Regions from separate parts of the Homo sapiens genome. Here regions 1 and 2 are each linked to region 3. Evidence: fine-mapped expression QTL. A gene starts in region 3. Each other region holds a variant in brackets. All regions are shown on one strand. Distances are between the middles of the regions.

The links.
Region 1: its variant is fine-mapped to the expression of NFAM1 in whole blood (TOPMed, PIP above 0.99).
Region 2: its variant is fine-mapped to the expression of NFAM1 in whole blood (TOPMed, PIP above 0.99).

Annotation. Positions count from the first base shown.
Region 1 is chr22:42,376,364-42,386,948 of GRCh38, forward strand. NFAM1 (NFAT activating protein with ITAM motif 1) reads right to left here. Exons shown (of 6, transcript NM_145912.8): 6 at 4,044-8,857. The coding sequence ends at 8,798. Among named protein-coding and RNA genes, the nearest start is that of LINC01315, 12 kb to the left of the region's middle. The variant A/G (reference allele first, on the strand shown) is at 5,252.
Region 2 is chr22:42,395,241-42,405,825 of GRCh38, forward strand. NFAM1 (NFAT activating protein with ITAM motif 1) reads right to left here. Exons shown (of 6, transcript NM_145912.8): 4 at 2,618-2,716. Among named protein-coding and RNA genes, the nearest start is that of LINC01315, 31 kb to the left of the region's middle. RefSeq lists a silencer at 1,583-1,877. The variant G/A (reference allele first, on the strand shown) is at 3,999.
Region 3 is chr22:42,425,652-42,436,236 of GRCh38, forward strand. It overlaps NFAM1 (NFAT activating protein with ITAM motif 1), which reads right to left and starts at 6,752. Exons shown (of 6, transcript NM_145912.8): 1 at 6,586-6,752. The coding sequence starts at 6,706. RefSeq lists an enhancer at 1-122.

The DNA.
Region 1 (10,585 bases), 49 kb before region 3:
ACCCGGTCTCTATGAAAAATACAAAAAATTAGCCAGGTGTGATGGTGCGCACCTGTAGTGCCAGCTACTCCGGAGGCTGAGGTAGAGGACCGCTGGAGCACAGAGGTTGAGGCTGCAGTGAGCTGTGATCGCACCACTGCACTCCAGCCTGGATGACAGAGTGAGACCCTGTCTCAAAAAAAAAAAAAAAAAAAAAAAACCAAACCGAAAACACATTAAAATTTTTCTTTTTGGAAAACCATCCAATCAGCCAGAGAGACACAGAAAAAAAGGAGCTTCTCCAGTGCTCCCCACACACCCCCGCCACCACCCCTGGCCGGGCTCTGTTCTGCTGGCTACTTGGGGGAGTCTCAGGCCCTGAATGATCAGGGACATGTGGCCTGGCCTAGAGGCAGCTGAGGCAGGAGGGAGGCCATCTGGTGAGGCGAGAGGTAGCGGTCAGGACATTGCTGAGTCCGCTGAGGCATCCCCTGGCAGTCACAAGGGCTTCTGGGATCAATTAGCAGAACCACCCTAACAGGGCTCATGGCCCCTGACGCAGGCACGTGTCCTCAGAGCCTCTTGACAGCCTTGGCAGCCAGGAATTGAAAGGAGGTGGGGGAGGGGGATGTCGGCCTTTCCCCTGTGCCTGGCCTCGCCTCCAACAGCTCAGCACAGAGCCTCCCCGCCCTCCCCATTAGGCGGAGGCTGCCGGCCTTCCAGAGCCTGCACTTCTTATTGCCTTGCTTCTCCTGGTGTTGTGGGTGCAGCAACAGTCTGCCTCAATTTTCACATATGTAAAATGGGTCATATACTAATTAAAGATCACTTCCTGGAAATAAAAAAAAAAATTATCCCTTTTTCACTAAGAACAGGTGTTGAATCAACAGCAAAGGAAAAGACTCCTTTATTTTTTGAACAAACAGCTCCTAAGCCCCTACTGTGAGTCAGGCACAGACAAAGAGAGACAAATGAGGTGTTTGCCATGCTTGGGAAACACGGGAATTCTGGGGGGAGATGGATGTGTGTGAACTGATTCAGTTTGAAGAGGTCAAAGAAATGAGAGGATTCAGTAAACTGCTTGGTGTGGGAGGGGGCTTTAAGGAAGACTTCACAGTGGAGGTAGCATTTTTTTTTTTTTTTGAGATGGAGTTTTACTCTGTGGCTGATATCTGTGGTATGTGCCACCACACCCGGCTAATTTTTGTATTTTTAGTAGAGATGGGGTTTTGCCATGTTGGCTAGGCTGGTCTCCGACTCCTGACGTGAGGTGATCTGCCTGCCTTGGCCTCCCAAAGTGGTGGGATTGTAGGCGTGAGCCACTGTGCCCAGCTGGAGGTAGCATTTGAGCAGGAATTCCTCAGGCAAAGAATAGGGTGCAGGTCCTCAGGGCAGGGAGAATGGTAGGAGCCCAGACTCAGAGGTGGGGAGCTCAGCATCTTGGGGAACAGCAGCCATAGATGGAAGCATGAATGGAGCTGGGGTGACTTTGGGCCAGTAGGAGCCAATCAGAAATGAGCTGGTGGACTCCATGAAGACAGGACTGTCCATTTCTTATTCCAGCCACAGCACTGGGCTTGACACATAGTTGGAGCGGGACAAATGTTGTTAAAAGAATGAAGGATGGCCAGGTGTGGTGGCTCACACCTGTAATCCCAGCAATTTGGGAGGCTGAGGCAGGCGGATCACTTGAGGTCAGGAGTTTGAGACCATCCTGGCCAACGTGGTGAAACCCTGTCTCTACTAAAAATACAAAAAATTAGCCAGGCGTGGTGGCACTCATCTGTGATCCCAGCTACTTGGGAAGCTGAGGCAGGAGAATTGCTTGAACCTGGGAGACAGAGGTTGCAGTGAGCCAAGATTGCACCACAGCACTCCAGCCTGGGTGATAGGAGGGAAACCCTGTCTCAAAAAAAAAAAAAAAAAAAAAAAAAAAAAAAAGCCAAGCATAGTGGCTCACACCTGTAATCCCAGCATTTTGGGAGGCCGAGGTAGGTGGATTTCTTGAAGTCAGGAGTTTGAGACCAGCCTGGCCAATATGGTGAAACCCCATCTCCACTAAAAATACAAAAAAAATTAGCTGGGCCTGGTGGCACGTGCCTGTAGTCCCAGCTACTCGGGAGGCTGGGGCAGAAGAATTGCTTGAACCCAGGAGGTGGAGATTGCAGTGTGCCCAGATCACACCACTGCACTCCAGCCTGGGCCTCACAGAGAGACTCCATCTCAAAAAAAAAAAAAGAAAGAAAGAAAGAAGAAAAGAAAAAAAAAAGTGAAGGAGTGGTAGGAGTGGTAAGAGCCCTGAATGTGAGACTAAGGGGTTGAGCCCCGATCCTATGGACAGTGGAAACCACTGTGAGTTTTGGTATAGGGTGTGAGGTAGGGGTCATGTAGAGGTTTGGCTCTCCCAGCACCAATTGTTGAAAAGACTGTTCCCCATTGAATGATGGTGGCCCCCTTGTTGGAATGAATTGACCATTACCATAAGGTATGGCAGGCTTTTGAGAGAGGAATCATGTGGTCAGATATGTATTATAGAAAGATCAGGTGAGACTTGTTTGGACTGGGAATGGCTGGGAGGAGGAGGGGTTGGAGGGAGGCTCTTATGGGTGGACTTGATGGCAGGGGGACAGAAGGGGCATCTGGGGAGAAGAGACATCCCTGGATCAGCCCATGGCGGGCAGCAAGGTACAGGGCTATGTCCTGAGCCAAGGCCAGGATCTGGCCCACTTGGGCCTGTGGAACTCACTGGGGGATGGGGATGGGGCAGTCAAGGGAGAGACAGAGAAAATGCCCCCACTCCTCGGCCCCTCAAGGTCCTCAAAGTGGTAAAATAAAACCCACTCCAGATATAGCCATTTGCAAAGTCAGTTTTCAGGTAATGAAAGGATTGTAATGGAAAAACAATGCCAATTACAGCAGCATTATCCGGGATTATAAAGCTTCTAAGAGGCGGCTCACACCTCCAGGCATGCTGTGCCTGGGAATTTCCAGGGTAGACTTGGGATCAGAGCATACAGGCTGCCAGGATCCAGGCCTCACAGTGGGCGTGGGCTGCTGGGGAGGCCCAACCCCTGGGGCTCTATGGATCTGCCTCCATTTCCCCAAAGAGATAGAATACCGGGAGGCAGGAGGACCCCCCCAACTTCACACACACACACACACACACACACACACACACACACTTCTGAGAAATTGGATAAGAGGAATGTGAGGCTGCCAGCCCATCTCTGAAGGAAACCTGTTCTTCTGTGGGCTTCCCTACTCCTGGGGACACCACATCCCTCCATGGCTCTTTCTGCCTCCCCCATCACCTCCCCTACCTGGCCTTGGGGACAGCAGGACTGCACACATGCCCTTGGGGACAGCAGGACTGCACACACGCCGAGGCAGCCCAGCGTTGCTCCTCCTGGGCTGTGTGACCTGGAGCCAGTCAGCTGTTCTGAGTGGTAGCTTCTGCTTCGATAAAATGGGGAGATCACCCCTGCCCACCATCACAGACCTATTTTCAGGATTAAATGAAATATTCTAGATAAAGAGTCCGAGGAATAGAAACCAGTCCAACCTCGGGGCCTGGCGATTTGGTGGTGACTGTTAGAACAGTGAACTTCTATGCACTGGGTCCCAGGAATCCCTCCTCATTTCCCATAGGGAAAGTTTTGCAGATGTGTGTGTGTACAAGGATGTTCCCTGCAGCCCCTTATGTGAGGTTGAAAAATCATAAACAACTGAAAAGGCCTTCGATAGGGGGCCTGATTAAATTAGGATCCATCTGTCCTGCAGGATCCTTTGCTGTAATTGGAGTCTGGCAGCTCCTGTGTGCTGTCTCCGGCAGATCCCACCACGTGGGGCTGCATCAACAAAGCAAGTGCAAACAACACCTACAAAATGAATGCATCGCGGCTGTTCGGAAGCCCGCACGGCGCTCCACATTTTACATGTTCACAGGTAGACACCTAGATGCCATAAAAGCAGCGACGAAGAAAACACTCCCAAATGACCCGATTGGTTACTACTGGGGAGGGGACGGGTATGGAGGCTGGGAGGTGGCAGGTGCATCAGAGGAGTTTCACTTTGCTGTAGTTTTAATGTTTCACTGTAACATATGCTTCTGTCACCCACATATGTCACCTCCAGACACACACAAAACACACGCCAACACCAAGTTCAGAGAGTCTGGCCTGACCCGCGCTCAGTCAAGGCTGAGGCCATCATTCTGACCACAGGTCAGGGAAGGGAGACTGGGGAAGCCCCCTCAGGTGGACAAATGACATCCCCTGGCATTGCAAGGAATGGAGTGACGCCACTCAGCCTGGCTGGACTGAGCCAACGGCCCACCTCTCCTGCATAAGCTGTCTGCCAAGAAAACTATTGAACTACATAAAAATCCATCCCTGAAATCCCAGAGGCATCTTTAGAATGGAGCATGGACTTTACATTAGAATGTGCTTTAACAAAAAAAAAAAGAGAGAGAGAGAGAAAGAAAAAGGAAAAGCAGGTTTTGCCTGTAACTTGAGTTCAGGTTTGTGACACTGGGTGGCCAAAGAGCACTGCCTACCCTGGCCGAGGCCACCAGGCTCAGTTCCTGCAATATTGGCTGTGAAGGGAACCCCAGCCACACCGGGTTCAGCGCAGAACCAGCACATGTTCCCATGGAAACTCTGCTGCCAGAATCCCCTGGAAATGTTTGCTGAGGAGGGGCCACCGTTTACCGCACCCACTGCAAGTTCTGGACTGGTGGTAGAGGCTGGGCACAGACTGACCTCCAGAAGAAGTCCATGGGCCCTCTGCTAGGGTGGCACCAGACTTCCCTGGTCCCACAGGACAGCCAGTGGCCTCCTAGCTTAGTTCTGGGCCCCCGCCTGCAAGCACACGTGGCAAGGAGGGCTTCAGCAGGCTCGCAGAACCGAGTGGCAAGGCCCCTGCTCCCAGAAGCTGGTTTCCCAGGATGATTTTCTCAAGCAAGTGCTGACAGAGCAGGAGTCAAGCGGGGGTGGGGTTGGAGGCTGAAACCCATTGAAGGGGTCAACTTCCTAGAGGCAGGCAGGGATGCCTGGGGGTGCCAGACGTGGCTGAGATGTTTCTGCAGAGGGGAGGTTGGGAAGACCTAGGAGGGCAGGGCAGGCTGGGCCGGGAGAGATGGTGGGAAATCCCACCAGGTCAGGGGCCAGTGGGCAGAGGGAAGCATCAGCTGAGACCCAGAGACAGGGCTGCCCTGCTGCGGTAGGGCCCAGGGGCAGGGGCCTGCAGGGGCTGCCTGGGGCTTCCCTTCCCC[A/G]CCCTAACTCCAGTCCCCACTCAGGACTGCTCACATCCGTCCGTCCTGGAAGGTCCACAGCTCCCCTTCACCTAGGCCTCACCTACTCCACTCAAGCCACCCCATCCCCCTTAGCTTTTCCCCTCCAGGCCCATTCATTCAGCTCCTGCTAAGCCAGCACCCTCCTTCCCTCACCTCTCTGCTTACCTTGCTCCCACCCCCAGCTCTGGGCAGCCCTGGCCTGTCCATCTGATCGTGCTACCCCGTAGGCACTCCTTAAAGGCATGGCTGCAGAGAGCCTGGGCCCAGCTCCCAGGGAGGCCTGCCTCTCACTTAGACTCCTCTGTACTGCCCCAGAAGCCTATTCCTTCTGAAGGACGAGTCTTGAAGGAAATGCACACCCACTGAGCTTCTGCCTGAGCCAGGGAGTCCCCTTCTGTCCTTTCTGAGACACTGAGTAGTGTTTGTTTGTTTGTTTATTTGGACAGAGCGTGCTCTGTAGCCCAGGCTGGTGTGCAGTGGTGCCACTTCGGCTCACTGCAACCTCTGTCTCCCAGGTTCAAGAGATTCTCCTGCCTTAGCCTCTCGAGTAGCTGGGACTACAGGTGCGTGCCACCACACCAGGCTAATTTTTGTATTTTTAGTAGAGACGGGGTTTCACCACGTTGGCCAGGCTGGTCTCAAACTCCTGGCCTCAAGTGATCCACCCGCCTCGGCCTCCCAACATGCTGGGATTACAGGCATAAGCCACTACGCCTGGCCTGAGCTGTCTTGACTGTCACTGCAAACTGAGGCTCAGGTGGCCAGTGACTTGCCCAAGTCCACAAGGCTGTGGGAGGTGGAGCAGGGATTCAAGGGAGGCCCTGAGGCCACCCAGCCTGGGTGGGTCTCAAAAGCAATTTTCTTCTCTTCCCTCCTCCACCCATTCATAGTGGAAAGCAAGCCTGCACCCCAGGAGCTCCCATTCATACCCTCTCTGTCCCCTCTCTGTTCTTCCTCCTCCCGCCTGCCCCATGCACCTCCCACCCTGAAGTTCCCTGCCACCCCTCGCCCTGTGCCAGCTTGTCTCTGCAGGCTCTCAGTCCTGGGGGCTGGAGAACAGGTGCTCAGTCCTCTTTGCTGCCCACAGAAGTCTCAGAACATTCTTGCCCCACCCTCCCTTGGGCCAAAGCCCTTTAGGGTCCCGTCCTTTCATGCTGTGCTCTCCTCCTCCTCCTCCTCCTCCCTGCCTCTCTCCTTGCTCACTGAAGACCTCAGCACCCACTGCCTCCCAGCCTTGCCCTGAACCAAGCACAGACGACCACCACGCTGGCAATGTCTCTGTCCACCAGAGGGGTGATGGGTCAGCCCCCAAGAACCTCCTACGCCACAGGGAGGAGTTGGAATTTTATTCCAAGTGAGGCAAAAACCATGCAAGGTATAGAGCAGGGGAGGCCAAGGCCAGGTGTGGGTTTAATCGGGGTCTGTCGGTGGCAGGGCAGCTGCAGGGAGGCCGTGTTGGTGATGCCTGGGCCAGGGCACAGTGGTAAAGTTTAACCCAGGCTCCCCTGTCTACCCCTGAAAAAGACTGGAAAATGCTGAGTCCCAGCCAAGGGTCCAGGGTCTAGGAGCTGAGGTCAGAGAGGCCCAGGAGGTGGGGGAGGCAGGCCCAGTGAGGTGGCCCTCTCCTGGTCTTGCTGGCTTCGGTTTTCCCAGGGGAGCTCACTGCACCCTGAGCGGCATTGTCCCCCATTGCCCTGACCCTTGCCCCCACCTCCTTGGCTGGTGGAGCCAGGAGCCTGGGAGGCCCCTGTGCACACCTGGCAGCTTCACCTCCCCAAACAGGCCCGGAGTTCATTCAAATCCAGCCTCTGGGAGCAGGGGCCTTGCCACTCGGTTATGTGAGCCTGCTAAAGCCCTCCTTGCCATGTGTGCTTGCAGGCGGGGGCCCAGAACCAAGTTGGGAGGCCACTGGCTGTCCTGTGGGACCAGAGAAGTCTGGTGCCACCCTAGCAGGGCCAAGGGACTTCTTCTGGACGTCAGTCTGTGCCCAGCCTCTACCACCAGCTTTCCCTTCCCTGCAGGGAGGGGCATGACCTGCAGAACCAAAGGTGCTTCTGTGAGCCAGTAGCCCAGTGCTGCTTGGGGGCAGGGGCGGGGCCTGTGCCTTGGGTTCCCCCCCCTCCCTGGGCACATTTGGGGTTGGGGCAGCCCACACGGTGGGGTGGGAAGATTGACCTGCCCATTTTACAAATGAGCAAAGGTGGGAGAACTCAGGGAGACATGGGGGAGCAGAGGGAGGAAGCAGAGCCCAACAGCCCGGGGCACCCGGACCCCAGCCACTGCCTGCCTGTGGATGGGTTTCTGGCCACGGTGCAGGGCTACTGCGAGGAGGAAATGAGGGTGATGTGGGCACCTGAAACAGCAGAAATGGCTCAGGGCCAGGCACTGGGGAGCCACTGTCCCCATGGGGCTTGAGCTTCTGCCTCAGAGGGACCTTCCGGCTGCCATTGAGGGTCCCAGCACCAAACCCCACAGCTGGACCACTTGGGACCTCAATCCACAGGGGGCCAGGGCTGCGGCCTATGGCAGATAAAGATAGAGGAGGAGGGCTGGATGAAGCCACAGGTGGTGGGCACAGGATAGGCCAGACAGAAGGGACTTTGGGGGACTCCACCTTGGGTAGAAGGAGGGACAGCTGAGGTCCTGTGGTGGAGAAGGCCTGGAGCAGAGGGTGACCAAGGAGATGACAGAGTGCACGTACAGGGCCAGGCCAATGGGAGTGGGAACCCTTGGGAGAGGGAGCTTCAGGCCATTCATTCAGTTCCTGTTTAGCCAGCACCCTCCTCCCCTCATCTGTCCCTCTGCCCTCACCCCAACATGCCAGAATCTCCTTCCTCTCCAGCTTGTACCCAAGCCCTCTCTGCTCCATGCCCCCAGCCTGCTGACCACCTCTCAGCCATGTCCTGGGCCTCCAGATCTGTCCCTGATCCTAGTCTTGCCTCTGAGGGGTCCATCATCCTTGTCTGTCCCCCAGACCTCCCACGCCAGCCCCTGCTCCCACCCTGCCTGGCTGCCTCGTGCCTCTGGCCCAGCTGGGTAGGTAGGGATTTGCATAGCTGCTCCCCAGCTCCTCCATACCTCGGCTCCCCACACAGCACTGCTAGGCGCCCCTGCAGGGTCCTCCCTCAGCTCAGAGGCTGCCCTACTGGCTGAGGTGCAGGCTGGTGCCAAGAGAGCATGCTGCTCTGTCAGCATGAGGCAGTGAGCAGGGCTCTGGGCAAGGGTGGCATCCAGGAAAGCCCTTGAAGACTGAGGGGCGCTTTGCTGGTTGGGCCAAGGGAGGAAGGGCCTGCCTGGCAGAAGGAACAGCCTGGGCAAAGGCCCCAAGATGGGAAAGCCTTGGTGGTTGGGGCATAGAATGGGGGGGCAGTGGGGCCGGCCAAGACAGGAAGGGCCTTGAATGTGAGGGTGAAATGATGGGGTGTCCCTGGGGGCCTTACTCCCAACTCAGATCAAGTCCTTTGGTGGCAGGGGCTGCCCCGGTCCTCTGACCCAGGGCAAGCTCTATGAGCGGTGGAGCCCATCCTAGAGATTTTCATAGACCAGGTTAAGTTCGCCATCATCTTCGAATCTATGCGGTCTCTCCTGGATAGAAAAGAAGAAAGGGAGGGAAGGAGAGAAAGAGAGAGAATGACCATTAAGAATGAACTTGCACTAATTTAGTTTTAGCCAGAGGGCAACAGATCACTTCCTGTGTAGCTTTGATGGGGGGCCTGCCCTCTGTCTCCAAGCCCACCTCCCCAGCCTCTTCCCCCACCATGCTGCCCCCACCCCTGCCCATTGCCCTCCAGCCACATGGGCCTGCCCTTCCAGCCTCAGAGCTTCCCCCACAGCTCTGCCCTCTGCCTTCTGCCCTATGTGTGGGATGCGCCTCCTCCCACAGACACACCTGTTCCATGACTGCCCCCTACTCACTCTGCCTGCGGGCTCATCATAGGGTCCCAGGGACCCCCTCCCTCCCTCCCCACCCTGGCTGGTCCCTCCCAGAAGAACACCCCTCACAACAGGGCTACAAATGCCTCTGTGTGTCCATGGGGTCAGCGACCTATTCCTGCAGACTATGGCTCCCAGAGGGTAGGGACATGCCTAGTTCTCCTGTCCAGCACCCCAGGGCCTGGCACAGGGTGGGCACTGCCGGAGATGTCCCTGCTTTCACTCAGGGTCTAGTTGAGGGCTGAGTATAGAAAGGGCTTTGAGAACAGGCGATTTAACAAATAGTGCCAGCCCGAGCCAGAGAAGGCCAAGTGCCAGGCGCCCGCACTCCCTGACAGATGTTCCAAGAGGCCTGTGGGCTCCTGTTCTGGCTGAACAACGCCTCACGCTTGACGGTGCTGGAAGCTCTGGTGCAGATGTTATTCAGCTTGGAACACATTTGAATTCAGAGGCAGTTGGTATTGCAGGAAAACACTGCTCATCCACTTTACAGATGAGCAAACAGGTTTAAGAGAGAAAGTATGGGCCGGGCGCGGTGCCTCACACCTTTAATCCCAGCACTTTGGGAGGCTGAGGTGGGTGAATCATGAGGTCAGGAGTTCGAGACCAGCCTGGCCAACATGGTGAAAACCTGTCTGTACTAAAAACACAAAAAATTAGCTGGGCACAGGGGCGGGCGCCTGTAATCCCAGCTACTCGGGAGGCTGAGGCAGGAGAATTGCTTGAACCTGAGAAGTGGAGGTTGCAGTGAGCTGAGATCGCGCCACTGCACTCTGGCCTGGGTGATGGAGCAAGACTCTGTCTCAAAACAAAAACAAAAACAAACAAACACACACACACACACACACACACACACACAAAACAAAAACAAAAAAAAAGAGAGAAAGTATGATTGGGTAATATGCCTGAGGCCCTATCATGACAATCACAGAACCCTGACCAGGCCAGCCCAGCTTCTACCAGCTCACACTCTAGCTCCAGACTTTAGCCAACACCAACCTGGGGGCAGCTGGAAGCCTAACACCCCTGTCTGACTGACCATGTGGACACTGTGCCCAGTGATAGTTACAGTGGCTCATAGTGCATGGGCACAGCTGGGTCCCAGGCAGCTCTCTCAGTACATTCTACCCTCACTGAACATCTATGAGGTGGGTACTGTTAGGTTGCTCAATCTGCACACAAGGAGATTCAGACACAGAGAAGTCAGACACCTCGGCCAGGGCTGCACAGTGGCTAAGGGACAGAGCAGGAACTCAAACGCACCAGTCCTCTTAACCAGCAGGCCAGCTGCCACCAGGAGATGGCTGGGATTCCACAGCAGGTGGCTCACTTCCATGTCCCATTTGCCCCCCCACTTCACCAGTGATGGGAGGGTCAGAT
Region 2 (10,585 bases), 30 kb before region 3:
AGGCGGGTGGATCACCTGAAGTCAGGAGTTCGAGACCAGCCTGGCCAACATGGCAAAACCCCATTTCTACTAAAAATACAAAAAAATTAGCCAGGTATGGTGGTGGTCTCCTGTAATCCCAGCTACTCAGGAGGCTGAGACAGGAGAATCGCTTGAACAGGGGAGACAGAGGTTGAAGTGAGCTGAGATTGCACCGTTGCACTCCAGCCTGGGCGACAAAAGCAAGACTCTGTCTCAAAAAAAAATAATAATAAATATAAATAATAAAAATAAAATAAAATAATGAGGATTGGAAAGGAAAAAGTAAAACTTGCATTATTCATAGATGACATGACTGGGTTCGTAGAAAATCCAAAGGAAGGCCAGGCGCGGTGGCTCACACCTGTAATCCCAGCACTTTGGGAGGCTGAGGTGGGCGGACCACGAGGTCAGGAGATCGAGACCATCCTGGCTAACATGGTGAAACCCCGTCTCTACTAAAAATACAAAAAAATTAGCCGGGCGCAGTGGCGGGCACCTGTAGTCCCAGCTACTTGGGAGGCTGAGGCAAGAGAATGGCATGAACCTGGGAGGCAGAGCTTGCAGTGAGCCAAGATCGTGCCACTGCACTCCAGCCTGGGCGACAGAGCGAGACTCTGCTCAAAAAAAAAAAAAAAAGAAAGAAAAGAAGAAAAGTAAAGAAAGTGAAAATGGGGACAAAACCTTTACCCTAAAACCTTATCAAGAGGATTGATAAAATATAACAGGTGTAAAGTCCTGCCATGATCCCTGGCACATAGTAGGTACACAACAAATGGCTCTTGATACCATCATCGTTGTGACTGTCACTCTTCTCCGCCCAGGCCCAATCCCAGTTGGTAGACCCTTATGTCAAGGGCTTGGCAAAGTTCTATGACCTCTACTCTCCAAGCTGGCCTGCAACTCTGCAGGCAGTTAGGTCTGTTCACCTCACTCCAGAGAAGTCGGCCTGCATCCTAGAGGCTGTGAAACCCAGGCAAAAAGAAGCTCTGCTCAAAAGAGCTCTTCCGTTAAACATAATCTCATAGAAAGATATTTATTCACGTGGAAAGATGTTCATGAAAAAAATAGCTGTATTGCTCCAATTAAAAAAGAAGTATGTGTGAGTGCGTATGGGTTTCTTTGTATATATTTATAGAAAAAATACTGGAAAATATATTAGTCAATGTTCTTAGTATTTATCCTGGAAGAAGATGGGATTAGGATGCTGGTTATTTTCTTCTTTTATATATATATATATATATCTCACATATGTGTATGCTGGGGGAGAGGGAAAGTGAGAGTGAGAGGGAGAGAGAGAAATATTTTCATCTAACAGTTGACACCAGAATCCCTGGTAGGGAAAATACCACTATGAGATGCTGGGAGACAGGAGAGAGTATGAGGAAGTCTCCGGCCACGTGCAAAACCGTGGCTGACAGAAACTCCCCAGGATGGGGAAGCTGAAAGCCCTTTGAGAACCATCACATTCCACTTGGAACTGTTGGCACTGCCCCACAGGGACATTTCCTTGGCCTCGCTGCCACCCGCCCCATCCTCAGCAGACAAGGCTGTATCCTGGGCGTCCTCTGTGTGGTGTTCTGTGGCGTTATTAGGGTGAGTCAATGTTGTGGGAACAGAAACGACAGCACGTACGAGCAGAACCCAAGCACCATCGCAGCCAGGGGGCGTGCACCTGGGGGGCGTGCACCTGGGGAGCGTGCACCTGGGAACCTGCAGGGCCCCAGAAGGGCTGTGTGCCTTCCAGGCGTGGAGTGGGGAGCCCACCTGGCGGTGCCAGATCTCACGAGATGGGGACCCCAGCTGGCACTGGGTGGCATTTCTTCTTCCCTTGCTCTACTTGGAGCATATGTTGTTCGTGGAGCCGAAAGGAACGTAGCAAAAAGAGTGTTCCCAGCCCTCCCCGGCCCCAGCCGCTGGGCAGAGGGCTGCATGCTGGCTGGCTGGCCAGGCTGGGGCAGCCTGGCCTCCTCGGCCCCTACGCTGCACCCACCTTCCACTTCCTGGAGATGCACCCACATCTCCAGGAAAATTGTTTCAGAAAATGCCTACAACACAGCAGAGAGTGGAACAAACAGGGTCCCAACGCATGTCTGCGCTGTGATTGTGACCATGTAAGATAATATCTGCATGTGCCAGGAGGGGAGAGAGCAAATCATTACAAATCACTGATGTGTTAAGGGCGTGGGATGGCGCCTGACCTCTTCCTCTTTTTGTGATTTTTGTTGTTTATACAATAAAAACAGGAGGAAGTGGTAAGAGCTGTTTGGTCAGATGAAGGAGCTTTCTTCATTCTTCGCCAACTTGTGCCGTCACTACCCCTTGTCCCAGAATGAGGATCCATGCCAAGGAGGGGAACAGGGCATGGGGGGCACCTGACATTCGTATGCCTTCCAGGAGCCCTGCACGTGTCATCTCTTTTCAGCTTCAGAGAAATTCCATGAGGTAAGAATTGTTATCCCCATTTTATAGATGAGGAACTTGAGGCTAGGAGAGTCCACACAGCTGGTACAAGACTGAGCCAGACAGACCCTGGTACAAGACAGACTCTGCCTAAGGCCTGAAAGAGGTGGAGGGAGCCGGGGGCCCCGGGACTCACTGTGTAGACAGATTCTGAAGGATGCTGCTTGGGGCTGCTGGCAGATCTTGGATCTGGGCACTTCCTGGTGGGGTCCTTCCCTGGACCCCGCATCCGCTTCTGTAGGGAGAAAGGAGTCAGGGCCAGGGATGAGTGGCTCTCGTCTTCCTCCCCGCACAGACCCCCCAGGGGAAAGGATGGCAGATTGTCATGAGGTCACACAGAGATTCATCACTCAGTCCCTCCCACTCACCCTCTCCAGGGAAACATGGCAAATGCCTACAAGACCTGCATCAAGCCATTCCTGCACCTGGAGACACAGGAAATGGAAAAGGCCCACACGAGGTGATGTCCCTGGACAGAGCACCTGGCTGGTAGGGACCCAAGCTACTGGGACCAGTGCCAGTGGGGCAGGGCCCCAGGGACCGAGCCAGCAGCCATGGGTGGGCCCCTAGTGGTGCCAGCCAGGTCCAGTGTCCAGTCTTCCTCTGCTGTCACTGGCTCTGGCCTCGAGCGAGCCAGTTCCCCTCTGGGCCTTGGTTTTATTTATTATTATTATTATTATTATTATTATTATTATTATTATTATTATTTGAGATGGAGTCTCACTCTGTTGCCCAGGCTGGGGTGCAATGGTGCAATCTCAGCTTACTGCAACCTCTGCCTCCCGGGTTCAAGCGATTCTCCCGCCTCAGCCTCCTGAGCAGCTGGGACTACGGGCATGTGTGCCACCACGCCCGGCTAATTTTGTATTTTTAGTAGAGATGAGGTGTCACCATGTTGGACAGGCTGGTCTCGAACTCCTGACCTCAGGTGATCCACCGCCTTGGCGTCCCAAAATGCTGGGATTACAGGTGTGAGCCACTGCACCCGGCCATGGGTCTTGGTTTCTTCAGCAATAACCCTCTTTTGTGAGACTGATGCAAAGTTACAATGAGGGCACAAGGAGTAGGTGCCTGGTGCTTAGGAGGTGCTGCTTAGAAGGCCCTTGCTCAACCAACACACACTTGATAGCACTGGCAAGCCAGGCAGTGTGAGGAGGTGGGCACCGTCCCTACCCTCCTGGAGTTTAGGGACCAGTGAAGAGATGGAGGATGAACCAGTGGTTTTGCCGAAACATGGTATGTGGGTTGATTGCCAGGCACAGAGCCTCTGGCACATGAGGAGGAAACCAATGCCCCACTGGGCAGAAGCGATATTGAAGGTGAAATCCTGAGGGCAAGAAGTTCATTTAGCAAAAGAGGGAGGAGGGAGCCTCAGGTAGAGGGAACAGCAGGTGCCAAGGCCTGGAGGTCTGGAGGCACGTGGAGAAGGTCAGCATAGGCCAGGCACGGTGGCTCATGCCTGTAATCCCAGCACTTTGGGACTCGGAGGCCGAGTCGGGTGGATCACCTGAGATCAG[G/A]AGTTTGAGACCAGCCTGGCCAACATGGCAACACCCCATCTCTACTAAAAATATAAAAACTAGCTGGGCATGGTTGTGGGCGCCTGTAATCCCAGCTACTCGGGAGGGTGAGGCAGGAGAATCGCTTGAACCCAGGGGGCGGAGGTTGCAGTAAATCGAGATCACACCATTGCACTCCAGCCTGGGAGACAGAGCGAGATCCCATCTCAAAAAAAAAAAAAAAAAGAAAGAAAGAAAAAAAGAGAGAGAGAGAGAAGGTCAGTGTGTGGCCCGAGAGAGGAGCCTGCCTGGGAGGGGCAGGCGTGGCGTGGCCGTGCTGGCTGCATGAAGAGCATAGGAAACATCTGAGGGCTCGAAGTGGGAGCGCCAGGGTCAGAGCTGTGCTGGAGAAAGCTCCCGCTGGTCACAGTGGAGGCTGGGCCGGGCCTGCTGGGAAGGTGAAGGCTGGGGAGTCACGAGGCGGTACAGGCAGCCCTCTGGAGGCAGAGGGAGGTGGCCTGGACATCCCCCCTCATTGCAGGCACCACACGGCCACTGCTGACAGTGGAGCCACAACTGCCTCATCTCAGGGCAGAAGCTAATTAAAAACCCTGGCCTCCTGCCAAACCCCAGCCCATTTACTGCGGGATTAGCTGCTGAGAGCTACTTAACTCGCAGGCAGAAGCCGGCGCCACCCCCAGTCACAGCACATAATGGCTCAGAGCATGGAGCCAGGTAGGGTTCTCAACACCTGACCTGCCTTCTCTCACGCGCCCTCCACAAACCGCAGGTGAATCTTTCCATCCTCTCTGTTCTGTACATGAGGGAGTGAAGGCTCAGAGAAGGCAGGTGACTTGCCGAGGCCACGCAGCCAGGAAGTGGCAGAGGCAAGATTTGAATCCAGGTCTGTGTTTCACCAAGATATTGACGAGACAGGAGCTGGAGTTTTGACTCCTCTGCTTAGTTAGAACGTGTGAGCCTCACAGACACAGAGCAGTGCTGGCGTCTGTGTAGCACTTGACAGTTTACGAAGTCTGCTGGGACTTGTCCTTATTTTCATTTAATTCTCATAACAGCCAGAGGAGGTGGGCATGGAATTGCCCGTTTAACAGACAGGGGGCCAGGTGCAGTGGTTCATGTCTGTAATACTAGCACTTTGGGAAGCCAAGGTGGGTGGATCACTTGAGGTCGGGAGTTCGAGACCAGCCTGGCCAACATAGTGAAACCCCATCTCTACTAAAAATACAAAAATTAGCCATGTGTGGTGGTGAGCACCTGTAGTCCCAGCTACTCGGGAGGCTGAGGCAGAGAATTGCTTGAACCTGGGAGGTGGAGGTTGCAGTGAGCTGAGATTGCACCATTGCACTCCAGCCTGGGCAAAAAGAGTGAGACTCTATCTCAAAAACAAAACAAAACAAAAACAGGAGGGGGAAGCTGAGGCTTGTCCAGCTGGTAAAAGGCTGTCCTTGGATCAAACCCAGATGTGTGTCCTCAAATCCAGGGCTGCCTCCCCTGCACCACCTGCTTCTTGAGGGCACCGTCACAGTCAGAGGTAGTGGTCTGCCCCAGTGCACCTCAGTGCCTCCTCTTGTCAAGGCAGCTGGGGACCTAGTGTCTGTCTCTTCGCTGAGCTGGCCGACCTGGACACCACCAGGGCTGAGGATGTGAGCTCATGGGCAGTGGGTCTCCCGCGAGGCTGACCTGGGCTCAGCTCTTTGGACCTGCCGGGGCTGGAAAGCAAGGTCCCTGGAGCTCAGTTAGCTCTTGGTGTCCCTCCCTGGCCCTCCTACGCGCTGGGCCTGGGCTGGGCATGGAAGACCCTGTGGTGAACAAGACCCACGCCTGGCCTCGAGGCTCTGTCAGTGAGACTGATGGGGTTGCCAGAGAAGTGAGTGCCACTGGGGATCCCAAGAAGGGGCCCCAAGTCTGCAGGGGACTGAAGCAGACGTCTCAGGGCCATCTTGCGCTGTCTTCTGAAGACACGGGAGGAACTTCAAAGCTCTCCCAGTCTAAGAAGGTATCTTAGACATTGCGAACAGCTCGGGGGCAGGAGTGTCATGGATGCACAGAAGAATGGACAGTTAGACAGAAAGGAGGAGATGAGCCACAGGCTGGCACGGGTGGGGCCACGAAAGGCCAAATGCCATGGTGTCTACCCGAAGGGCAGTGGGGGCCACCAGGGAAGTGGCTGCAGTTGCATTGTATAAACCTCCCTCTGCTGCCACAGATGCGGGGTGGACTGTAGGTTGGGGCTGGCAAGGGGAGGAGGCAGGATCTCCAGGAGAGAGGCCTCCTGGGGGTGCTGGGGAGGCTGGGCCGGGGCAAGGGGTCCCGTGGAGGAGGGAGGGAGCCTTCTTGAAAACTCACATTACATTATGGGGGTGGGGCTGCTTTGCTCCCTGCCCATCCCTGCCCACTGAGCGCTCTGTCCTCGGGGCCAACATTTGCCTTTCAACTGTGATTTTCAGATGAATCACGAGTGTGGCTTCTCCCAACACGCCCAGCTCTCTGTGGTCCAAGTCTCCCCTCCCTAGTAGATGGTGGTGGGACAGGGAGTCACCAGGCCTGGGCTGAGATCCAGCTGTGCACACCAGGGGTGCTGCCATCAGCAGCTCAGGAAGCCTGTTGGGCCTCAGCTTCCTGCTCTGTAAAATGGGAGCAATAATGTGGCCTTGCCCACCTCACATCCTGGCCACTTCTGCCTTATCTTCCAGGTCCTCGCATGCATTTATCCTGTCATTCCTTCCACAAGCATGCACTGCGTGCCAGGCTCCCCCAGGTGCTGGGGACACTAAGTCCCCCGCCTACAGGGGCTATGCTATGGCAGGACAGACAGCATAAAGACAGACGCCAGGTTGTGACAGAAGCCAGGGTGTGGCAGCAGAGACCTATATTCCAGGAGAGGGTGATGGAGCCCAGCCTGGGACGCCTAGGAAGCCCCGGGGAAGGGGCTGGATCCGGGACAGACTGAGTGCAGGGCTTGCTGAGGGATGGATGTGGGGAGAGAGAAGAGCCGAGCACAACTCCAAGGCTTGGGCCTGAGCATCTGGAGCACGTGTGCTGGGACGCAGAGGACTCGGGGACTGAGCACTGCTCTGGACGCATGAGGTGGCGGCACCCTCAGGCCCCCACGTGGGGCTGTGGACCATGGTCTGGAGCTTGGGGAGGGGTCTGAGCAGCAGCATCTGTGGACAGGGAATGCCACCCGCAGAGCAGAAACTTTGCTGCAGGAGCACACACAGAGCGCGGAAGGGCTCGGAGGAAGGGGCCCGGGATGTGCCAGAATTTAGAGGTCACCAAGAGGGGGGTGACCCAGCAAAGCTGCCTATGGGGTGGGACAGAACAAGGAGGGCATGTTGTCCTGGTACCAAGAGGCGGAGTGTGCTGTGAGGCGGGAGGCCTGCTGTGCCCAATGCCATGAGAGGATGAGGATGAGGACGGGCCAGCCGCAGGGAGCGCCTGCTCTGGGAACACCACTTTGACCCCTCAAGTCAGGCAGGAGCCCCCAAACCTACTCTCATGGCAGGAATCATGGCGATTGCTGCCTTCTCAAGAGAGAGACCTCTCCTGGTACTCAAAGCGCCTCAGACCCACACCGGTCCCTCTGTGCCTTCTTTTTTTTTTTTTTTTTTTTTTGAGATGGAGTTTTGCTCTGTCACCCAGGCTGGAGTGCAGTAGCGCAATCCAGGCTCACTGCATCCTCCGCCTCCCAGGTTTAAGCAATTCTCTGCCTCAGCCTCCCGAGTAACTGGGATTACAGGAGCCTACCACCATGCCCGGCTAATTTTTTTTTTGTATTTTTAGTAGAGACAGGGTTTCACCATCTTGGCCAGGCTGATCTTGAACTCCTGACCTTGTGACCACCCACCTCGGACTCCCAAAGTGTTGGGATTATAGTCGTGAGCCACCACGCCCGGCCCCCTCTGTGCCTTCTACAACCCCATGACACAGCTCCTCTGTTTGGCATCCCCACTGGGGAAACCGAAGCCTGGAGCACCCAGCTCAAGCTCGCAGAGGTTGGTAAGTGGCAGAGCTGGAACTGAACGAAGGCCCAACTCTGTGCTTTTAAGCCCCCTGCTGATTTCTACTTCCTTTCTTCCTGAACAGGTCATGACAGCATAACAGCTGATCTCCCCAGCTAAGAGTTTAGCTTGCTGTGTTCCCAGCCTCTGTACAGGGCCTGACACATAGTAGGTGCTCAGCTCTGTCGCCCAGGCTGGAGTGCAGTGGTGCAATCTCGGCTCATTGCAACCTCCGCCTCTCGGCTAATTTGTATTTTTAGTACAGGTGGGGGTTTGCCATGTTGGCCAGGCTGGTCTTGAACTCCCGACCTCAGGTGATCAGCCAACCTGAGCCTCCCAAAGTGCTGGGATTATAGGCGTGAGCCACTGTACCCAGCCTGAATGAATGAATTTAATGACAGGTGTGAAAGGGCCCTATAAATGGTAAGCCCTTCAGCAAATGTTTATTGAGGGCCTACTATGTCAGGGGACCTGTGCTAGAGGCTGGGGCTTGGGCAGGGAACAGGCCGAGAGGCACCCGGCCTCACACAGCTGGCCTTGACGAAGAGATGGAGTAAGCTCAGGGGACCTACAGATGACGAGGGCAGAGGCAAAAGAGGTGTCAGGGAAGAAAGCCATGGTGTCAGAGAGGGCCTCTCTGAGCTGGGTACATGGGAGCTGGATCCAGAAAGCAAAGAAGGAGATCTCTGGGAGGGATCCCAGGTGCCGAAATACAGAGAACAAGGAGGGCCTGGGAAGCCTCTGCTGTTGAAGGGCCTGCGGGCAGGGCTGACTGTGCCACCTGTGGGTCATCCATTCCTGGGCTCTACCCCCATCCCTCCTGCCCCAGCCCCTCCGGGCAGACTTCATGCATCACCAGTTCTTACCACCCTCCAGCTCCCATCTTCCCGGGGGTGTGAGCTCCGTGCCCTCCCTGCTGGCCTTTGCAGAAGTCAGGTGCAGGCATTGCCCCGGGAGGCAATGCCATTCTTCCAGACTTGCCCCAGTGGAGTCGCACACTCTGCTCTTTGTCCTCACTGTCCCCAAAGCTGCCAACCGCGGTTCGGGTCCACCCTCTGCCACTTCTGGTTGGTAGTTTCCAGCTTCAATTCATTTATCCACCACTGCAGGTGCTCCCGGGTCCTCTGTGCCTGGAGGGAGCCTCTTTCTCCTGGACTCTCTCCTTACCCCATCCTGCCGCTGCCATCAGGGGCATCCACAGCGAACCAGGGGCTCCCAGGGCTGCTTTAGCAATGCAAACGCAGCAGCTGCTCTGGCCTCCGGGTTCTCTTTCCCTTCCAGCCCAGGCTCTCACATCAGCCGTTCTCCCCAGGTACAGAGGGTGTGTGGGCAGCAGAAAGCTTCTGCTGTGTGTCAGGCACCCAACTGGTGCTTCAGAAGTGCTCTCCTGCAGATCTCCTGATGTCAGGAGTTTGAGACCAGCCTGGCCAACATGGTGAAACCCAGTCTCTACTAAAAATACAAAATTAGCCAGGCGTGGTATCGCACGTCTGTAATCCCAGCTACTTGGGAGGCTGAGGCAGGAGAATCACTTGAATCTGAGAGGCGGAGGTGCAGTGAGTCAAGGTCGCACCATTGTACTCCAGCCTAGGCAAAGAGTAAAACTCCATCTCAAAAAAAAAAAAAAAAAAAAGTGCTCTCCTTCCATGTTCACTTAGTGGGCAGGGTCTACCCTCCTTATCCCATTTCCAGAGGAGGAAACTGAGGCTCAGAGAGGATCCAAACCTGACAAGAGGGCTTGCTTTCACCCTGTTGGCACTTAGCCTAGTGATGGCACACACGAGACACTTTGCAGACATTCCTGGAAGCACAGGCAGGGTGGTGAGAGGAGGAAGAGGAAGGCAGGAGTCACTGAGGCCATCCTGGAGGGGAGGGAGCAGGGACCAGAACTCAAGCCCAGGGCTCTGAGCTTTGTCCCCTCCTTTACTAATACTGTGATCCAGTTTCTACGGTCCGGTCCCATCTTTGTAGGGCAGGAGCTGACGTTGCTCAGCAAATGGGGGGCTCAAGGTTAAGATCTCGCCTGGCCCCGTTCTGTTCCTTGCCTACTGTGTTTCGTGTACACAGAGGGCACTTGTGTGGGTCACTCCTGTAAGCCTGGGTGGGGGTCCGCAGGCGGGGGGAGTCCCTTGTCACCTGTGCCTGAAGCCCAGTTTCTGTGTCCACGCCCCAGCTCCTCCCCTGGCCTCATTTCGAGTGCCTGGGGACTGCTCGGTAGTGAACAAATCGAGAGATACCCTACTTGCTATCATCATGGGAAAAGCCGAAGCAGGGAGGGAGGGCATATATTGAGGGCGAGAGTCGGGGGCGTGCAAGAAAGGCCCAGGCCGGGCACATGGCAGGTGCATACTCGTGCTGGCTTGGGGAGGGAGGCAGCCTGAAGCCAGTGGGTCTCCATCCTAACCCTGGGCTCATGAAAGCTGAAGGAAGTGTTTCCCACCCATCTCGGGTCTTCTTGGCTCAGCTCATCCCTCTGGCTGGGCTGGAGTCAAGGCGGAGCACAGAGCCCTCCTGGACTTCACAGTGGTACCCAAGGCCTGCGACTCACTTCACCCTGAAGCTCATTAACAGGGCAAGGTCAAAGTA
Region 3 (10,585 bases):
CTGAGGCTTCTGGCCTTGACCATGACCCTGCAGACCCTCTCTCTTTGACCTTCCCTCCTCTTCCCCTCCACGCCCAGCCTTCCTGAGCCCGCGTACTCTCTCTGCACTGTCCCTGGCTTTTCTCACACAGCCTGCCTCTTAAAGTTGGATGCTTGTTCCTTGGCTCTGCCCACAGCCTCACGTGCCTCAGGCGAGCTCAGTCATGCCCCACATGCCTCTGAGCGCCTGTGTGCTCGGGATCACAGATGAACACCTTGGGGGAGAGGGAGGGGAACTGGGTTTGTTCAGGGTGGGGAAGGGGCCAGAGGGGGTACTACAGAAGAGCCTATGAGTTTGACCTTGACAGAGAGTTTGGATGTCACCAGGTGGGCAAGTGAGAGGATACCCTCCAGACCCAGGGAGCAGTGTAGAAAGAAGCAAAGGTTCAGGGGAGTGGGTGTGGCTGGCTTCTTCAGGGGATGGGAGTCCTCTGCCTCCGGCCAACCTCAAAGGTGGGAGTGGCCATAAGGAGCAGGCACCCAGGAAGAAGGGGTGGCCGAGGGATGGGGAGGGTCTTATCTGAATACACCAGGGTTAGGGGCCTGCTGAGGGCAGTGAGGCTGTTTGCGGTTATGCTCTGTGGACCTCTGGCCCCTGGCCCACCAGCAGCAAGCAAAGATCTGGCCCAGGCCCTGCCCCTCCTCCACCTCAGCACCTGCAATGGGGTGCGTGGGGAGCAGAAACAGCCAGGGTCAGCATTCCACCTCCTCTGGCTCTTCTCGGCACCCTGCACAGCCTCCAAGCCCTAGAATGAAGCCCCCAGGTGCAGCCACTCATCAAATAGACCCTCAGCAGCCAAGCACATCCAAGTCCCAGCCAAGACTCTGCAGCCCCTCCTCTGTGCTTGGCCTGGTGCTGGACTCGGCCTCAGAGAACCGGCTCAGGTGGGGCCTGGCCCTCCAGGCCCTCTGTTTTGGCAAAGGCGCCATCAGGGCTCTGGCCTGAGTGCACCCTGGGACAGTGAATCACCCCTGCCTACAGGGGGACTGGGGAGGCCATGGTGAGCCCCTTGGCCTGCAAGGACCTGAGTCTCAGGGTGCAGAGGAATAGGTGGGGCCAGTGGCTGGGCCCAGAGAAGCCTGGTGGGCAGGACCCCCACGATCCACGACCCATGACTCACGACCGAAGATGAGCACTGAGTCCCCTCCCTCACTGTGCCCTCGAGCCCTGTCCCTAGGGCCAAAGCCTCACAGACCCTCCCTGAGGGGTCCCAGGTGCCACGCCCTGAGGCCATCATGGTACTGGATGTACCTTCCTATTGCTGTCTGGGAGGATGCTGAGCACCCAGGCGGGGGGGCTCGTGGAGGTTCAGCGTACTCCAGAGACTTGGCCAAAGGCTCCCAGGACCCAAATCCAGCCTGCTCAGACCTTACCAGGAGCCCAGGCGCCCCACTTGCCAATCTCATGTCCATACCCCTCCCCTCCCTCTCACCAGGCTCACCCCGTCCCTTTCTCTGGTTTCAGCCCCATCTGGGTCCTGTTGCCCACGTCCCCACTAGGGTATGGCCTTGCTTAGATCCACAAGGAGCAAGCAGAGGGTCAGATCCTGCCTCCGGGTCCACATTTCCCCAGGATGCCTGTGTCCTCCCTCCCATTCACTACACAGGGGGTCTCATTACCCTACCAACGCTGGAGAGGAGCCAGGGCTCAGGGAGGGCAGAGGAAGGGCAGAGGACGACTACCCAGCCCTTCCATCTCCTCCCCCAGGCGCCCCTCCTGTGGCATCGCGTCTCCACCCTGCTCAGAGCTTAATTCATCCTTGATTGTCACCATTTCCTGAGCATCTGCTGGGTGCTGGTCCCGTGCTGGGAGTCAAGGATTAGAAGCCACATGAGTCCGCACAGTACCTTTTGATTTTTTCAACCACTTAAAAATATAAAAACCATTCATAACTCACAAGCCATACAAGAGGCAGTGGGCTGGGTTTAGCCCACCGGCCGTGGTTTCAACTCTTGCTCTATCTATAGCAACAAAACGAACTTCAGCCATATCGTGGACTGGATCTATCTTAAAAAACATAATGCTCAGTGAAAGAAGCGGGTCACCGGAGAATACACACAGTATCCTTCAATTACACAAAGTTCACAAACAGGCAAAGCTAGTCCATATGGTTTCGGGATGTGTACTAATGATAAAACTACAAAGAAATGCCAGTAAGTGATCCCCCCACAAGCTGGGATGGGGGTACCTTTGGTGGGGCACGGAGCGGGGCAGTGTCTGTGGGGCGAGGGGAGTAGAAGGGGCTCTGAGGCACTGGGATGTTCTCATTCTTGACCTGGTGAGAGTCACACAGGACTTTGTTTTCTAGTGCTTACCACGCAGCACTGCGGTTTTTGTGCGATAGTTCACCATGACAGAGGAGACAGCAGTGAGACAGGACCCGCTGGGAGTGTGCCCGGACCCCTACCTGAGGGGCATTTGTGATCCACCCAACCACAATCTGCATCCCACTCCTGTGTCAGACTTCCCCTGCCGTCAAGCTGAGCCTCTCCCGGCCCTCCTGGCCCTGCCTTTTGGGCTCTCAGCCCTCATTCCCTCAGCCACCTCCCGCTCTGTCCCCACTCCGCGGGCAGCCTTTCCAGCACTCCCCTGCCTCTCCCCGCCCACCTCTGCCTGTGCCTCGAAAGTCCTTTATTGGGATTTAGACAAAGATGAAAAACAGAGGCTACTCCTGACAGAGGTCCGGAGCGGCGGGAAGGGAGGCAGGAGGTCTCAGCCGGGAGCAGGCAGGGGCTCCTGAACATCTTTTTTTATTATTATTACTTTTTTGAGACAGAGTCCTGCTCTGTCACCCAGGCTGGAGTTCAGTGGCACGATCTCAGCTCAGTGCAGCCTCTGCCTCCCAGGTTCAAGCAATTCTCCTGCCTCAGCCTCCTGAGTAGCTGGGATTACAGGCGCACACCACCTGGATCCAGAACAAACTTGTCTGGTAACTCCGGCCAAGGCTCACGGTCCCACCAGGCTGAGAGTGGGGCCTATGGCTTGTTCACGTCTGGGTCCCTCTGGTGCCTAGAACCGGTCCTTTTCAATGGATATGTGAGAAATAAATACAGCCCAGAGTTCTGGAAAGGCCACAGAGAGGGGACTGACATTTGCAGAGGACACTAAGGTGCAGAGAGGTTAAGTAATTGCCTGAGGTCACACAGCTGTCACCAGAAGAAGGCAGGCCTGGAACTCAGGTCTGTCCAGCCCCAAAGTCCTTGGGGAGGACTGAGGCCCATGGAAGCTGAGTTGCAGCTGCTCCTGGAAAAGCCAAGCCCCCAGCAATTCCTGTCTTGGGGAGACCACCAGTGGCTGCCTTTGAGAAAAGCAGGCTTTGCAGAGGGGTCAAGAAGCCAGAGGACAGGCCCAAGTCCCGGCTCAAGTGGGAGGAGGAGGATGGCTGGGAGCAGGAGCAGGTACCCAGGATGAGCTGGAGGCCGTGGGCTCACCAACTGCACCTCAAGTTTCCATGGCTCTGGCGAGGCTGGCAGGTGGCTGACACTCACTGAGGACTAATGACATACTGGGCACTCAGTCCTCAGGATGTGTTTAGGCAGGCAGTGTTATCACATCCATTTAACAGAGGAGACAATTGAGGCATAGCGATAGAAGTAATCTGCCCAGGGTGCCTGGGCAAGTAGCAGAGCTCAAATTCAAACTGGGCCGGGTGCGGTGGCTCACGCCTGTAATCCCAGCACTTTGGGAGGCCAAGGTGGGGGGATCACCTGAGGTCAGGAGTTCGAGACCAGCCTGGCCAACACGGTGAAAACCTGACTCTACTAAAAATACAGAAATTAGCCAGGCATGGTGGTGGGTGCCTGCAATCCCAGCTACTCAGGAGGCTGAGGCAGGAGAATCGCTTGAACCTGGGAGGCGGAGGTTGCAGTAAGCCGAGATGGTGCCACTGCACTCCAGCCTGGGCAACAGAGCGAGACTCCGTCTCAAAATAAATAAATAAATAAAAAATCAAACTGAAGATGAATGCCCCTGGCCTGTACTCCTAAGCCAGCATCCTCTCGCAAGTTCAGGGATACGATGCAGAATCAGGGACGCTGGCCTTCAGTGACACCCCTGTGGACACAGCTGAGGGATGCAAGCTGGGTTGGTACTGACAGGTGGCAGAGCTGGTTGCACCAGGCTGATGGTTAAGGCTGATGGTTACGGTCAGGGGAGGTTTGGAAGATGTGGGAGGGGCAAGATTCCTTCCAGCAAACCCTCAAAGCTCTGAGACGAGAAGGCAGGGGTGTGACATGGAGTGACAGATAGATGAAGGGGGATGCACAGGGGTAGGACAAAGAGCGGGTTGGGGGTTGGGCACAGTGGCTCACGCCTGTAATCCCAGCACTTTGGGAGGCCAAGGCGGGTGGATCACCTGAGGTCAGGAGTTCGAGACCAGCCTGGGCAACACTGTGAGTCTCTATCTCTACGAAAAAATTTAAAAAATAGCTGGGTGTGGTGGCACACGCTGTGGTTCCAGTTATTCGGGAGGCTGAGGTGGGAGGATCATTTGAGTGAGGGAGGCAGAGGTTGTAGTGAGCTGAGATTGCACCACTGCACTCCAGCCTGGTGGACGGAGCGAGACCCTGTCTCAAAAAAATAAAAACAGGACGGGCACAGTGGCTCACGCCTGTAATCCCAGCACTTTGGGAGGCTGAGGCGGGCAGATCACCTGCGGTCAGGAGTTCAAGACCAGCCTGGCCAACATGGCAAAACTCTGTCTCTACTAAAAATACAAAAATTAGCTGGGCATGGTGGTGGGCACCTGTAGTGCCAGCTACTCGTGAGGCTGAGGCAGGAGAATCACTTGAACCCAGGAGGCAGAGGTTGCCGTGAACCAAGATGGCGCCATTGCACTTCAGCCTGAGTGACAAGAGTGAAACTCTCAAAAAAAAAAAAAAAAAAAAAAATCATGGGTGGGGGTTTGTCTGCTGCTCCAAGGGACTCTAGGACACCGTAAGGGTGTTTTCACCTCTTGTGAAAGAACAGTTTCTCTTTTATGTAATGTTTGTTGCAATACCGGGTGGGAGGGGGTGGCACTGGGAATGTTTTGTTATAGTTGAGACTGTTACAAAAGAGCTTTTCCCCAGTAGCACCCCATAAAACCTCTTACTGCTCGGTTACCAGGGTGTGCTGGGTGTCTTTTGGGGAGGAGGAACCACACAAAGGGAAAGGATGGGAATTGGGGGGAAATTAAATTAAAAATGACTGTAGTTGAGACACATTGACACTAACAGGCTGCATTTCCGGGGTCTGGCCGTGTTTGCACCAACTGTCTGGGGTGTGGGGCGAGGCGTGCACAGGATTAAAGGAGATGGTGTCCTAGGGCTCTGGGCTGCAGCCTGGGGAGGTACACACAGGTCAGCCTTTGCCTCCCCAGGGTAAGTTTCCGGTGAAGAACATTCTTTACAAGTAAGAGGATCCTCTGAGCCTACTGGCCGAGGGGCCCAGCTTGGGGCTGAGGCTGGCCTGGGGCTGAGGCTGGCCTCTACTTACCGGCTAGGTCTTGAGCAAACGAACTGGCTTCCCTGGGCCTCCTTTTCCCTGTCCTTAAAATGGTGCAGGTGAGGACAATAGGAGCCCCAAGGGGTGCTGTGAGGGTGGCCAGTACGTGCCCTGCTAAGGGCTCCATAAAGCCTAATTTGTGGTCATGAGAGGGGGTGCAGCAGGACAGGGTGGGGGCAGCTCTTGAAAGCCCCATAAACTAAGAGAATAGAAAGGAAGGCACCCTGTCTCCACAGTGGAGGCCACCCCTTTGGCCAGAGGGAGGGTTGGCTGCTGCCCGGCCAAGGAGGGGCAGAGAGAATCTGGCAGAATTCACTGAGCCCTCGTGCTGGCAGCCCTGGAATGGGACCCTCCTGGGCCGTCCCTGGCCTGATGAACTGGCCCTGAGGCTACCTACCCCACAGCTTGGCTCGGATCCCGGCCACCCAGCTTCCAAGAAAGCCTGGAACCAGGAAAGGAGCGCCGCTGGCGTGGAAAGACACACTTGCATCCTAAAACACTTGGCCTCTGGTTGTGTTTCAGGAACTGGGAGGTGAGACCCTTTCTGGTGACTGACAGTTTTGTGCCTCTGGGCGCAGAGCCCTGTGGCTGGCCCTGGTATCCCCCCCTCCCCCCTCTCCCCGCTCTCCCTGGCCAATGCCAGCAACAACCCAGAGGGTAGCCCCACCACTTGCCAGGTTCAACGCAGTGTCCCCCGCAGCAGCCACGTGAGGTTCCTCGGATGGGGAGCTGTCCCTCCCCCCTGCCCCGCCCCTGGCCCCAGCCACACAGCGCCCACCCTCCTTGTTTAAGGGCCAGGAGGCCAGACTGCTGGGGCAAAGCTGTCACAGCAGCGAGGGAGAGAGCGCTGTCCCCCTCCCCTTCAAAAGCCACCTTGGCAAGGCATTAGCTAAACATCTTCTCGGTCCCAGAAGGCTTCCCCTGTGAAGTCTGCAGCGTTCAAACGACAACCAGCAAATCCCCAGAGACAGGTCCCTGGGAATTAGCTGCGCCGGGCGGGATGAAAGCCGCTCTGATGTTCTGGAGCGAGAGAGTAGAGAGAAGGAGGAAGACAGACACTACCTGCCAGTCGCAGGGTCCCGGGCAGCAGCAGCACGCCAAGGAGGAGCCAGGGGGCTGCGGGGAGCCCAGGAGGGCGTGGGAGGCCTGGCAGGGCCCGCCACCTCACAGGCTGGTTCTCCATCTGGGGGCCTGCTTGTCTGCGGCGACTCTTTAGTTCACAGGAGGGGACGGCCGGCGCTGACAGCTTCCCCTTTGCTTTCCCCACGAAGCTCCTCCCTGGCAGCCCCTGACCTTCCGCTCAGAAGCAAAGCTGGAACAGCCCAGCAGGGTGGCCGCCAGATGAGGAACCTGGCACTGAGACTGGTCCAGGCCACACAACCAGAAGAAGAGCTGGAGACGGGACCCAAGCCTCCCCACTCCAACCCCTGGTGGGCTTCACCCTGTCTCGGCCCCTTTCCAGCAGGGGCCCCGTCCAGGAGACACTGGTAACTGTGCAGAGGGATCATGGGATTTCCATGAGTGACTTCGGGCCTTGGTTTAGCCTCTCACTTCTGAAACACTTTTAAAACGACCACAAGCATGTTCACACAAACTTCTCTAAAATATTCTGAGAATCCCTTAATAATGTGTTTACCAAAGGTAGGTTTTTTGGTGAGGGGTGGTAGGGAGGCTGGGGTGAAGGGCAGGAGCCTCATGTTCCCAGCCCTAGAGAGGGCCAAACACCCAGGGCAGGTGAAAGGCAGGCTGCCCATCATTCACCCAGCGAGAACCTCTGTGGGTCCCCTGCAGAGGCCCAGGAGACGCCTCCTCTCTGGTCCATCTCTAACGTCAGCTCCTCCCTGTGGCTGCCCTAAAGCTTAGCTCACTCGGCCTCCCAACTGTGAGACCCTCGAACTGCTTCCCCATTGGCTGCAGGTCACAGCCCCTGCTCTCACTTCTAGCAGCATCAGCCGGGGACAGGAATTGTTTGCTGCCGGGACCCCCTTCCCCAGCAGACTGGGAGCCCCTCACCCTTGGCACCCACACATCTGCCTGCGTGTCTGGAGTGGCAGAGGAAAGGGGCTGGGGTGTGGTGATGGCTGGTGGAGCTGGAGGCACCTGGTACATGGAAGACGCAGGCGGGAAGGTGGCTGAGTTTCAGCGCATGCTGAGCGCTTACCTCCCTTCTCTGCAGGTGTCCCTTCACTCACCAGATAAATGTGATGATCCCAGTTGTACAAAAGAGAAGACCTCGGCCCCAGGAGGCAAAACAACATGCCTAGGATCAGGGCAGGTCTGTGGGGCGGGCATTTGAACTGCCAGTGGTATGATGTCCGAGCCTTCTCCCACCCTGCTACTGCCTGCTCAGGTGTGTCCAGCTGCAGCCCCCGGTGACGGCATCATGAGATCCATTTCAGTTCTTTGCACACATGCTTTTCCCTGGGCTGCTCCAAACATGAACAGTGAAAGCCTAAAGACGTTTCCACCAATGCCACGAGCACTGGGAGGCTGGCAAGAGCAGGGGCCGCCCACCAGGGGAGGAAGACATATGAACAGGAGAAGTTTCCTACCGCGCAGGGGGCAGGCGGGGACCCCAGTGTTATTGACTGTTGATCCATCACAGTGATACATGCTCACATATGTCACAGTGAGATGCAGACCCGCTGCTTCACGCTATTCCTGGCTCCTGGGAGTAGCAGGTTGTCTAAGCACCTTGATGCCATGGTGATAGACCTCGTGTCAATGCCTCAGGGTACACGGGGAGCATTGGAAAAGCATCGGTCTGTGCCTCTACAAGTCTCATTACGACTTGGCACTGGGAGGCAGCTGAATGCCAAACTGCCTCGGAACAAGGGAGCCTGCTCTTCCAGCCCTGGTGCCGCCTCCGCTCCTGCCCCTGTGCCAGCTCACTGACCCTACCTCTCAGCCTGTCACGGTGCCCCCCACACCCCAACTCTGTACCTCGGACTCCCGGGAGTTCTGCCGCCTCTGAGTCTGGGTCTAGCCTGCTGCACACCTGGTTTCCACGCTTGCCTGCCTGAGCTGCCTGTCTTCCTCCCCTCTCCTTCTTGAGCCTGGCCCAGGGGGTGCAGGAATGGACGGATGGGTGAGCATAAGGCAGGGAGAAGCCTTCCTCCAGGCTTGATATGAAGGCAGGTGCCCAACACCACGCTGGTGCACAAGAGGCCTCAAGGGAAGGGGTAGCCTCTGGGAGGCAGGGTGGGAGGAGGCGTGCATACTCCCCAGGCAGGCCCTGGGCTGTGGAGCGCAGACATGACTGGACAAGAAGCAGCTGAGGGTCCCAGCTCATTGCCCAGTTTCTGAGACGCTCTGCAGCCACGCAGCCTCCTGGGGAGAGGCAGGGACGCACCTTGGCAAGGAGCCCAGCAGCCCTGGCTGCGCTGTCGGGGCCTCGTGTCTGGCCCTGATCCTCCTCGGGAGCCAGGGGGATAGAAATAAAACCGCAGCGCATCCAGGAGCCTCATTTCTACCAAAACTTTCTAGCACCTCTCATGTGCTTCCTCTCCTGTGCCCTCAGCCAGAGCTGTGAATAAACAGTAAAGGCCCCAAAGGCTGAAGGCGGAGCAGAGGAATGAGGAGGCTCTGTGGGTGTCCCAGGGGCAGCTTCAGTGGCACAGCCTTCGAGCTAGGCCTTGGCAGCTGAATTTGCAGGTGAGGTCCCTGGGGACCACACGTCTCAGCCACTGGCTTTTGCCCAGACCTCCGTCCATTCCCCGTTTATCCGTGCATCTATGCCTCACAGTATACTGAACACCTGCCCTGCCCTGGGCCCTGGCCTCACGGAGGCTGTAGAAGTGAAAGAGCCTAGCCTCCCTGGGAAGCCTAGGGGCACGGCAACCTCAGCAGAGTGAAGCAATAATAGAGCAGTTCCGGGAAGCTTCCAAGCGCCTGACACTGCTCCAGGGGACCTGCTCTCCTTGCCAGTTTAATCCTCACTGCAGCCCTATGGGGCAGGCACTCTAATCACCTCCATTGTACAGATGAGGAAACTGAGGAACAGGGAGGTTAAAGTAATTTCTGAGTGGCAGCCCTGAAGGAGGTGGAAGCTGGGTGGGGAAATGGGGGAGCCCAGGTGTCCCCTGCAGTCCCCAGGGGCCTCCTCGACACCAAGACTAAGGCTTTCCAAATGAGACCACAATTACTGGCCTCTGTTTTCTTTTTCTTTTCTTTCTTTTTTTTTTTTTTTTGAGACAGAATTTTTCTCTTGTTGCCCAGGCTGGAGTGCAATGGCGCGATCTCGGCTCACCGTAAACTCTGCCTCCCGGGTTCAAGTGATTCTCCTGCCTCAGCCTCCCGAGTAGCTGGGATTACAGGCATGTGCCACCACGCCCGGCTAATTTTGTATTTTTAGTAGAGATGGCATTTCTTCATGTTGGTCAGGCTGGTCTCGAACTCCCAACCTCAGGTGATCCGCCCACCTCAGCCTCCCAAAGTGCTGCGATTATAGGTGTGAGCCACTTTGCCCAGCTGGTCTCTGTTTTCAGTTTAGTTCCACAAACACTTATTATGTGCCTACTGCGTGCCAGGCATTGGGCAGACAAAACATAAGTCATGGTTTTGCCCTCAAGGCGCTCCCTGTCCAGGGAGAAAAACAGATCCCCTACCCACGACCACCTCCAAGATTTCCTTTTCTTCTTCTTTTTTTTTTTTTTTTTTTTTGAGACAGGCTCAAAAAAGACTCCACTAGGCTGGAGTGCAGTGGCATGATCTCAGCTCACTGAAATCTCTGCCTTGCGGGTTCAAGTGATTCTCCCGCCTCAGCCTTCCGAGTAGTTGGGATTACAGGCGCCTGCCACCACACCTGGCTAATTTTTGTATTTTTAGTAGAGATAGGGTTTTACCATGTTGGCCAGGCTGGTCTCGAACTCCTGACCTCAGGTGATCTGCCCGCCTTGGCCTCCCGAAGTGCTGGGACTACAGGCGTGAGCCACCGCACCCGGCCTCAATCCAGGATTTTCAAATGCCCCAGCCAGCAAGTGGCAGCTGAGAGGCCTCCAGCCGGGACACAGTGAGGTCCTGAGCTCTTCATGGTTCCTTTCTGCACAGGAAGCAGAAGTGC